2 separate regions of the Homo sapiens genome follow, and region 2 is linked to region 1. The links come from fine-mapping of genetic effects on gene expression. A gene starts in region 1. The other region holds a variant in brackets. All regions are shown on one strand. Distances are from middle to middle.

Region 1 (5,270 bases):
ATTTCATCATGTTGGCCAGGCTGGTCTCGAACTCCTGACCGCAAGTGATCCACCCACCTCGGCCTCCCAAAGTGCTGAGATTACAGGCATGTGCCACCGCACCCCGTCATTTCTGAAATTTTATGATTAAGAAAATATAATGAAACACAATCCTATTATTGAAGTGAAAAGGACAGTTTAGTTGAACAGATACTTGTTAAATTCCTACTGTTTCAGATTCTCTTCTAAGCATTGAAGAGAAACAAATATGAGTCATTGTCATTGACTCTGACATTGTCACTGACAAGTAACAGATTATATCAGTACAATACACTTCTATCTATCTCTCATCCTATTCCTCTCATCTATTCATCACCCTAGTCTAAATCACCATCATCTTGGCCCTGGATTACTGCCTCCTAACTATACTCCTGAATCTAATCAGATTGCCCTACTGCCTATTCTCCAAATAGCAGTCAGTGTCAACACACATCTAATCATGTCACTCTCCTACTTAAAAATTCTTCAGTGGTTTCCCATAGATCTCAGAACAAAAACCAGAATCCTTAAGGTGGTCTGTAAGGTCTGGCTTCCACCCACGTCTGCTTCACTGGGCTTATTTCACAAGATATTCTGCCTGGCTCATCCATGCCACAGCCACACTGAGCTGCTTGGCCTTTTCTTGTCACCATGCTCCTCACCACTGGCCTTTCCATGTGCTGTTCCTTCTACCTAGAACCATCTTCAATCCCCTCTTCACTTAGTTAACATCTACTTATCCTTCAGAACTCAACAGCCACTTCACCTGGGAAGACTTCCTGACTAGGTCAAATACTCTTATAGGCTCAGAGAGCACCCTGCTCTCCCCTTCCTGGACACAAATTTTACTTTTGCTTGTTCCTTATTTGATTAATGTCTTTCTGTCTACACCAGAGGTTGCAAACAGGTAGTCAAGAGGCTGAATTCAGCCCACAAATTTCTTTTGTTTGGTTCATAGTATTTAAAGAGCTTTTGAATTAGTTGCTAAAATTGAGAAATTTCACAAAAATAATTTCTAAAGTCTCTTCTTGGGAGGAAAAAAAATGACCTGTTATCATCTGCAGACCATCATTCTTACATGGCAATACATTCCAATTCACCAGAATCTACTTCTCTCTATTGTAGGATACCCACCCACTTCATTATTAAGGTTTTGTGTCTTACGTCTGTAAATATGTATGATTTTCACCTCTGCCCAAGAAGGCAAGCCTCTCTCTTTCCAAGTTCAAGAACCTGACTGGTGTTGCTCAATGTTGTATCTTCAGGGCCTAGCATGTGGTTGGTGCCCAATATTTACTGAATTAAAACTTGAAAGCAGTGAACAGAACAAATATAGAGCATTTAATCTTAAATGTCAAGCACTGTCCTTCTAGTCTCCTGTGTATTATTTCACGCGGATAACAACCCCATGAGGTAAAGTTTACATGGGAACTAAGGACCCAGACAGATTAAATAATTATCCGAGGCCTCACAACCACTAAATAAGCGGCCATGGCTCAATTTTCCTCCATGACCCCTAATAAGGGGTCTTAGAAGGCCCCATTATTAAGTTCACGATAACAATCTGTGAAATCCTGGAAGATAAACATAACACCGCCACACACACAAAGACACCTACGGGTTTCATTCTGCATCATAAGCTAAAGCGCCACAAGAGCAATGACAGCTCAAGGCTAGGAGACTCGGAGTATGGGGCCTGGAATAGGGGCAGGCAGCCTTCGCTCCGCTGCCTCCCTGCGCTTGCTCCGAGGCGCAAAGGCCTCACCAGGTGTGCAGCATCCAAAGAGCCCCACCGTGGCCACCCCCAGACGCCCCGCTCAGCAGGAAGGGCTGCGAGCCAGAGCGCATCCTCCAGCACAGCGCCTTTTTGATAAGCGGCGCAGGCCCCACGGGATGCAGCAGCGACGAGGGCGGCAGGGCCTGACCCCAGGTCCCTGTCGAGGCCGGCCGGACCCCCGCGGCCCCGGGGCTGACCAGCCAGGCTCTCCAACCACCTCCACCGCACGACCGAGCCTGCCCCGCCCCACCCAGGCCGCCTGCCGGCTCCGCGCCTCCATGGCAACGGCCGCGCCCCCGGGCCAGGCCGCTAGGATGAGAAGAAACCCCAGAAGCGAAGCGACTCTCCTCACCGGCATCTTGGCCCCCTCCCGTGCCCGGCGGACGTCCCCGCCCGGGGTGCAGCCCAGCGACACCGGGTGCGCAGAAAGGATGGCCAGAGACTACCGAAACACCTCGTTGACGCTCTCGAGACTGCGGCTTCTCGGGCGAGAGCGCCCAGTGCGCAGCCGCATTCCGAGCTCGCCCCGCCCCAAGCCCAGTCTCAGGCTCTCTCGGCCCTTGAATTACGCCTGCGCGGAGGCTTTCCGAGTCCATCTCCTAGGACGCCAGACTGAGGCCGCGCGTGCGCAATGCTGCCATTCTGCTGCGCTAGAAATGTGGCACGCACTGAGGCGGAGGTAACCTGGCAGCCCGGGGTTGGGAGGAGGAGCTGCTCTTAGGCCCGTCTTCTGGCCCTTGCAATACCCGGAATATTAAAATCAGTAATAGCAATTGTACATTTTGTCTCATCCGAAGAATTGAAGACCTTACCTACCTGACCTCGCTTGATTGCTAACTTCCTCATGACCTGTCTTACCATTAGAAAGTGAGCTCTCTTAAGGAGATTGTTAGTATTCTCACATCTATCTCCAGAGCCCACACAGAGCCTGGCACAGAGTGGGATTTTTATACGTGTTGGTCAAAGAACCAGTGATCCGTCCATCCTCTTTCTAGTCCACTTGAATGTGTAATGGGCATTTCAAGTTAATCATGTCCAGAATTGAAATCTTGATCCCCCATCAATCGCCCCACTACCCACTCCACCCCCATCAAAAAATTTAAAAGGGCTCTCTCTCATCCCTCTCAGACTTTCTTCATCTCAATATGTGGGAGCTTAATTCCGACAACTGCTCAGGTCAAAATTGCAGTCTCTTTCATACACAATATTCTATCTTTAAATACAGCCTGTTGTATCTATCTTTGTAGTGGAACCAGAATTTGGCCACTTCTACCACCACCATCGTCTCTCACGTGCATTACTACAATCGCTCAGAACTGGTTTCCTTGATTGTGTGTCCTTGTCCCTTTTCAGTGTGCTGGACAGGAGCCAGAGTGCTGGTGCTAAAACATGAATCAGATCTTCTCTTTTCTCTGCTCAAAACCCTCCATTGATTTCCCATCTTACAAAGCTAAAGCCACAAGCCCTACAATCCTCCCTCTTGCTTCTTCTGCACCAGCCCCACCTGGCCTCCTTGCTTCATCCAACATTCCCGTCGTGCTTCCATCTTAGCATGCAAGGGCTGTGAGCTTGCAGTAGGAACTGATAGAAATAAAGATAAAGCATTTTACATAGTGCCAGTGTACTGTTCTACATGCTTTCGTTTTTTAATTCATTTAATCCACACAATAACCTTTTGAAATAGATACTATTTATTATTATTTTACAGATAAAGTAATTGAGGCACAGGACCATTAAATAACTTTTCCAAGGTCATACATATAAACAATGGCAGAGCCCAGGTCCAAACCCAGGCAGCCTAGACAGCTCTTTCCCTAAAAAACCACCTGACCACTCACCTCCTCCAGAAAGTCTTTGTTCACATAACCCCAGTGAACCCTAACATGATTTCCTTATTTAAAATTTCAACCTTCAGCCCAAACTCTTCTTTTTTTCCCTCCCCACTTTATATTTCTCCATAGTACCTATCACCATTCAATATTTTATATATACACACATACAAGCTTTACTGAGATATAATTTACACACCATACCATACAATCACCGATTTAAATTGTACAAGTCAATAGTTCTTACTATATATGGAGTTGTGCAACCATAACCTAGAACATTTTTATCATTCCAAAAAGACATTCTGTACTCATAAGCCACTCCCCCTTGCTCTCTGCAACCCTCCTCCCACCCCACTCCCAACATCCCAGACCTAGACAACCCACCAATCTACTTTCTATCTCTGTGGATTTGCCTATTCTGGACATTTCATATAAATGAAATTACACAATATGCAGCCTTTTGTGAGTAACTTCTTTCACTTACAAAGTTTTCAAGCTGTATCCCTATTATAGCATATATCAGCAATTTGTTACTTTTTATGGCTGAATAATATTCCATTGCATGGCTATAACATGTTTTTTTACCTATTTGTCATTGATGGATATTTGGGTTGTTTCTACTTTTTGCCTATCGTGAATAATGCTGCTACAAGTTTTTGTATGAGCCTATGTTTTCATTCCTCTTGGTTACATATGTAGAAGTAGAATTGCTGGATCATTTGGTAATGCTAATGTTTAACATTTTGAGGAACTGCCAAGTTGTTTTCCACAGTAGTGCACCATTTTAAATTCCCACCAGTAACATGTAAAGTTTACAATTTCTCCACATCCTTGCCAACACTCACTTTTGTGTAAAGTAGTATCTTGCTGGAGTATTTATTTATTTTCATTTCCCTGATCATAATGATGTTGAGCATTTTTTTTCATGTGCTGTTGCAATTTGTATAACTTCTTTGGAGAAATGTCCATTCAAACCCTTTACCCATTTTATTTGCCTTTTCATTATTAAGCTGTAAGAGTTCTCTACATAATCTGAATGCAAAGCCCTTTTCAAGTATATGACATGCAAATATTTTCCCCCATTCTGTGGGTTTTCTTTTTACTTTATGGATATCGTCCTTTGAAGCACAAAAGTTTTAAATTTTGATCAAGTCCAATTTACATATTTTTTCTTTTGTCACTATGCTTTTGATAAGTAAGAAACCATTTCCTAACCCAAGATTATGAAGATTTACCTAGAGTTTTATAGTTTTAGCTGTCACATTCAGGTCTATAACCTATTTTTCAGGGTTTTTTGTTTTTGTTTTTGAGACGGAGTCTCACTCTGTCGCCCAGGCTGGAGTGCAGTGGTGCCATCTCGGCTCACTGCAAGCTCCGCCTCCTGGGTTCACCCATTCTCCTGCCTCAGCCTCCTGAGTAGCTGGGACTACAGGAGCCCGCCACCACGCCTGGCTAATTTTTTTTTTTTTTTTTTTTTTGTATTTTTAGTAAAGACGGGGTTTCATTGTGTTAGCCAGGATGGTCTCAATCTCCTGACCTCGTGATCCGCCCGCCTCCGCCTCCCAAAGTGCTGAGATTACAGGCGTGAGCCACCGTGCCCGGCCCGGGGTTTGTTTTTTTGTTTGTTTGTTTGTTTGTTTTGT
Region 2 (5,512 bases), 30 kb before region 1:
TTGTTTCAATAGTTAAAAACAGTTTCAAAACCCATTAAGAAGCAGTAAAATAAAAAGTTTTTTAAATAAAAAGATTTTACATGTGGAAATACAAAGACACATAACTGTTCATGCATTAATGCATTACATTAGTAATTTAAAACCATTCAGGTATGTTTCCAAACTGATACTTTAGCAGCAAAAATCTTATTGTGGTCTTGTAACACTTTCATGAAGACAATCAAAGATATATAGCCAGGGTTAGTTTCAAAAGCCTAATATTTAAGTAACATATTACTTTAGCCAGAATCACTCTGACAAATCATTATATTTCTCCACAAATAATATTTTAAGCTAAATGTGAATATGTGCTAACTCTCCTAACCAGGTATTTAAAAATGTGACATCAGTAAAAGTCACTTTTATATGTATTTTTCAAAGGACTTTTTTTTAAAAAAACCTTCTTAAACCAATCAAACAAAAAAGAAATCTATTTCTAACAATGCATGATAAAATTCAGCACAAAATTTCAGGTAAATAAATATTTTTAAAAGTTAATGCCATAAACAGTATTTAACTAAACCAGACATAAGTAGCAACATTTTTTTATTGCCCTTTGCCATGTGCTCTAACCAATATTGTGAACGTTAACCGGCCAGGGTAAGTCAAAGGGGAAGAACTTCAGGGCAGTCCTAATTGAATTAATTTCATTTTTATTACATAAGCAACCACGGCATAACCAGGTATTTGATTCTTGGCTTTAAGAAAAAAGGAGAAAAATGTTTGAATGTGAAATAATTTACACTTGTATTTCCAAACTTTGGCTTAATGAGTCTTTAAGAATTTAGGGAAAAAAATGAAGTTCTTTTTAAAAGCTAAAGTTGAAAGATTGTTAAAAATACAAAAGATAGATACTTACCTGGTAAAAAAACTACTAAATTTTAAAAATTTAATGTATTTAAATAACATAGTTCTTTATAGGATAAATAATTGTACCATGTGGAGTGCAAATCAATCACACCAACCTGCTTGATCTTGCAATAAGAAGTAGTAAGCAAATCGCAGACAGGAAGCAATACGCACAGAGATGAGGAGGAAAAAAAGGAAAACATTATTTCTCTTGTGAAACAAAGAAAAATATATAATAGCATTCATTTAAGTGTAGAAATAAAAATCAAACCGTTATCAAAACTGAAATAGAGCCCATGTAAAAAGAAAGCATATTCAACACAACGAGAGATGTCATTTAAGCAAGAATATTAAAGTTAACTTAGTCTTAGATTATAACTCAAGTCAATCTCAAGATCTCACACTGATTCCCCAAGTCCTGCAAAGGTCACAGTTCAACACCATGTGGTTATGCTAACAGAAGACATGGAATTAGGAACCTGCTAAGATCTGGGAAGTAATCTAAAAGGGCAAAACAGAAAATTAAGGCAATTTTAACAACTAGTACATTTAAAGTGACAAAATTCACACTGTCCATATCAAAAATGTCCCAATTCAATATTTCTTTTAGTATATGGATCTATTATAGGCATGCTTCACTTTAAGAAAATCTAACACAAAAACCTGAACCAATCCAACAGATAAATTAGATTACAGTAATTTCCACTGATTATTTGATTAACAGAAAGGTCTAATGAAGAATTTTTAAAGACACAAGTTCTCCCAATACATCCGATTTCCCAACCGGATTAAGGGCTTTTTTTTTTTTCCAGAAAATAAAATTATTACATAAAATGAAGTATACCTGTACAGTAACAAACTTACATTCCTTCTATTAGTAGATTTTTAAGGGTAATTATAAACAATGATTCTACAGGAGTCACTGCCAATTAAGGACTCAAGCAAGAAACACCTTTTAAAAAGGCCATTGAGATATTTAAAAGGGAAGGTACACACAGCAACCACATGCTAGGACAACCATCTCTCCACTTCACCAACACGCCCACATTACAAGAAAAAAATTATGTGCTAGGTACGCAAATAGGAATTAAAACTTCTTGAATTGAACAAAGTACAACTCATTTCATAACATACTTTCATATAACTACTCTTTAAGAATTAAGTTTTAAAACAGAAAACTAAATTGCAACGCCTCCCACTCAAATATTTTCGCATATTTCACAGTTTATTATACAAAGTAATACCTCTATGTGGTTTCTAATGCAATTCCAAGTATTTTACAAATTATCCTTTGAAATGAATTGTTTTGGTAACTTGCCTACAA[A/C]TTGTCAATAGAGAAGGAGATTTCTAATATTCTTGGAATTATTCTTCTAGAAAGCTAAAAGCATAAGAACAATAAGCAATTATTTTTGTCATTAGTTTTGAAAGGGTAAGTATATAGATAATGCTTTAAAAGACAGTAAGCTGCAGGCTGGTACAAGAAAGCAACACTACTCCCCTTTCTTCTGAAAATAAAATATAAATAAATTAAATTAAATAACACTTTTCAACTTAATTAAATTGTTTTAACAAAAGCCTTTAAGTTTGAAATAAGTCTAGATGGATCCTGCATAAAATCCACGTGATTCTGCATTCTCTAATCATACCTTAGAAAATCTCTTAAAATCAGCCGGGCGCAGTGGCTCACGCCTATAATCCCAGCACTTTGGGAGGCCGAGGCGGGCAGATCATGAGGTCAGGAGATCGGGACCATCCTGGCTAACACGGTGAAACCCCGTCTCTACTAAAAATACAAAAATTAGCCAGGAGTGGTGGCGGGCACCTGTAGTCCTAGCTACTCGGGAAGCTGAGGCAGGAGAATGGCGTGAACCCGGGAGGCGGAGCTTGCAGTGAGCCAAGACTGCGCCACTGCACTCCGGCCTAGGCAAAAGAGCAAGACTCCGTCTCAAAAAAAAAAAAAAAAAAAGAAAGAACTTTTCTTAAAATCTATCAGGTAATACAGAAATATGGATAAATGTCCATTTGAAATAAAACACTATTCAATTCATCTTTACTTGCTTCAAGCTTTATGTTTTTCTTTATTTGGGAGCCTTTAATCTTAAGCTACCACTAAGAATAGGACACCAAAGTGTAAAAAATTTGTAATTGTACGACATGTTATAATGGGCACTGGTGTACTTCAAATATAATTTGTACTTTTAGAAATACAAGATTTGATGTTACGTGTCCCTTATTCTGAGCAGGATTAGAAATGTGTCATGAAACCTAAAAAATAAGCATAAGAATTATTCTTTTATACAGCTTACTAGCTCTCTTTACATTATCTCAATTGCAAAAGCATGAATCTCTCTTCCATTGTCTCAAACATAAGCTAAAGCCTATGTTTTAACAATTATGATTAACTGGAAGCAATGAAAGGGGGTGGAGGAATCATCACATGCTTTGTTCTACTGAGGAATCCAACATGTATTCTTTAGGTAATGACAGGGAGTGGTGCAGCATTGCTCAAATGAAGCCCATGGGTTATGGAAAAGCCAAAGCTCTGTTAGAGAATGTAAGAGCTACCACTCACTAGGCAAGAACTTATCCAGAGGTTTCTCTATGACAGAACATGTGGAGTCTGAACTACTGCTGCTGCTACTGCCTGGAAAACAAAGAAATGAGCCCAACAGGAACCAAAGAAAGAGGAAACAAGAAAATGAACACACACACAGAGAAAAATTCAGTTTTCAGAGAAAAAAATTTTAAAGGACAATCAAGCTTTGTATTAAAGAACCAAAATTTACTTTCCTAAAAACCAATCTTGGTAGTTTATCCAATATTCTCTACTTTACAAAGCCATACAGAGGAATTAGAAAGTGTACTGCTTTAAGCAACTACTGTGGGCAGATCCTACTGGTCACCTAAAGCCTAATCATTCAAAGGGTTGAAATGACAAGAATAAAAAATAAAGAAGTCATTTGGTGAGATTTTAGTCTACTGAAACTATTTAGGTTGATAAGTTAAAGGAATGGAGTTTTAAAACTCAAAGTCATACACAATAAATATTATAGGAGTGATAAATTACCCTTCATAATAGGTTAGTCTATCTCCACTTTCAGTCTCTCCCTCCCCCAAAATATCAAACTATCAAATATGTTTAAGGTTTGATAGCAAAACTTTCAAAAGGCTCACTGAAAATTTTTAAATTTCTAAGCCTGGAAGGAAGATACATTATTGTTAAATATTTTAACATATTACTGGCATTTTTCTATTTAAAATTTTATTTTTAACAAATCTGTTATCAGCTTTAGCTTTGAAAATAATAATCTACTCTGTGAAAAACTAGGTGTGAACAAAAAAAATTTCTCTAAATCAGGCAAACGTTTTCTGCAAAAGGACAGATAAGTGTTTGAGACTTTGCAGGCCATACGGCTTCATGTGAAAGCAGCCATAGAGCATATGTAAATAAATGAGCATGGCTGTTTTAATAAAATTTTATTTACAAAAACAGGTGGTGAGCTGGATTTAGCCAGCAGACATTTTGCCAATTTTTGCCATAAATCATTATTTTTCTGTCTTTTGAAGTTACAAAATCTTTATAGTTTTTAAATTTGGGACTCCTAATCAAGCAGTGATGGGTTTATTTTTAGCACAATCATTTTAATAAGACAAACAAAATATGCACCAGCTTGAAAACAATGACCACATTAATGGAAGAGAGTTCTGAAATAAATATTTATGGTAAAAAGGTTTGAAATGTAGGCCATTATAATATGTCCATTTCATTTGCATATTATCTATATTCTGATCATAATAAACAGTCTTAATTCACACGTGGCAACAAATCCCCCACAACAGAGTGAGAATGAGAATACATTTTATAAAGAAAAAGAACTAAATTTAAAAATGGAATTCCTCATACAAATTTACTATTTAAAAATTCAATGACTTTTAAAGACTAATCTTGTTTGTGGAAAAACTCCACATTATCCTAATTTCCTTAAAATACTTAGGTTCCAGCCAGGCATGGTGGCTCACGCCTGTAGTCCCAGCACTTTGGGAGGCCGAGGCAGATGGATCATGAGGTCAGGAGATCAAGACCAGCCTGGCTAACAGGGTGAAACCCCGTCTCTACTAAAAATACAAAAAATTAGCCGGGCGAGGTGGCATTTGCCTATAGTCCCAGCTACTCGGGAGGCTGAGGCAGGAGAATCGCTTCAACCTGGGAGGTGGAGGTTGCAGTGAGCCGAGATCGCGCCACTGCACTCCAGCCTGGGCGACAGAATGAGACTCCGTCTCAAAACAAACAAACAAACAAACAAACAAAAAAACTTAGGTTCCTAACACAGATGTAAGTCCCTACATAAAATTAAAACACACAGGAAATTTTAAAATGGCATACCCAGTATTATAGAGTCTTACAATTCTAAATTCTAAAAAAACAGAACATATATTCAAAGTCAGCTATAAACGGATCAATACAGGAGAAAAAATGCAAAGTTAACCAGGTAAATGGCATACATCTTCTGTTCTAATTGTTATCTAATATATTAAACAGATAACGGCAAAATAAAAGTCATGCACTCTACCACCTTGTGAAACCACCTAATTTCTACAAATCAGATTACTAAACAGAACTTAC

Direction of the effects. Positions count from the first base shown, and alleles are read on the strand shown. Sizes are in standard deviations (SD) of each study's normalised expression.
As copies of C replace A in region 2, the expression in nucleus accumbens of the gene that starts at base 2,280 in region 1 goes up (small effect, 0.28 SD a copy in GTEx).

What was found.
Region 2: its variant is fine-mapped to the expression of KIF3A in nucleus accumbens (GTEx, PIP 0.94).

The regions. Positions count from the first base shown.
Region 1 is chr5:132,735,267-132,740,536 of GRCh38, forward strand. KIF3A (kinesin family member 3A) reads right to left here and starts at 2,280. Exons shown (of 19, transcript NM_001300791.2): 1 at 2,148-2,280. The coding sequence starts at 2,153. RefSeq lists an enhancer at 1,585-1,684 and a silencer at 1,835-2,144.
Region 2 is chr5:132,705,447-132,710,958 of GRCh38, forward strand. It overlaps KIF3A (kinesin family member 3A), which reads right to left. Exons shown (of 19, transcript NM_001300791.2): 10 at 3,461-3,532; 11 at 1,005-1,013. Among named protein-coding and RNA genes, the nearest start is that of KIF3A, 29 kb to the right of the region's middle. The variant A/C (reference allele first, on the strand shown) is at 2,213.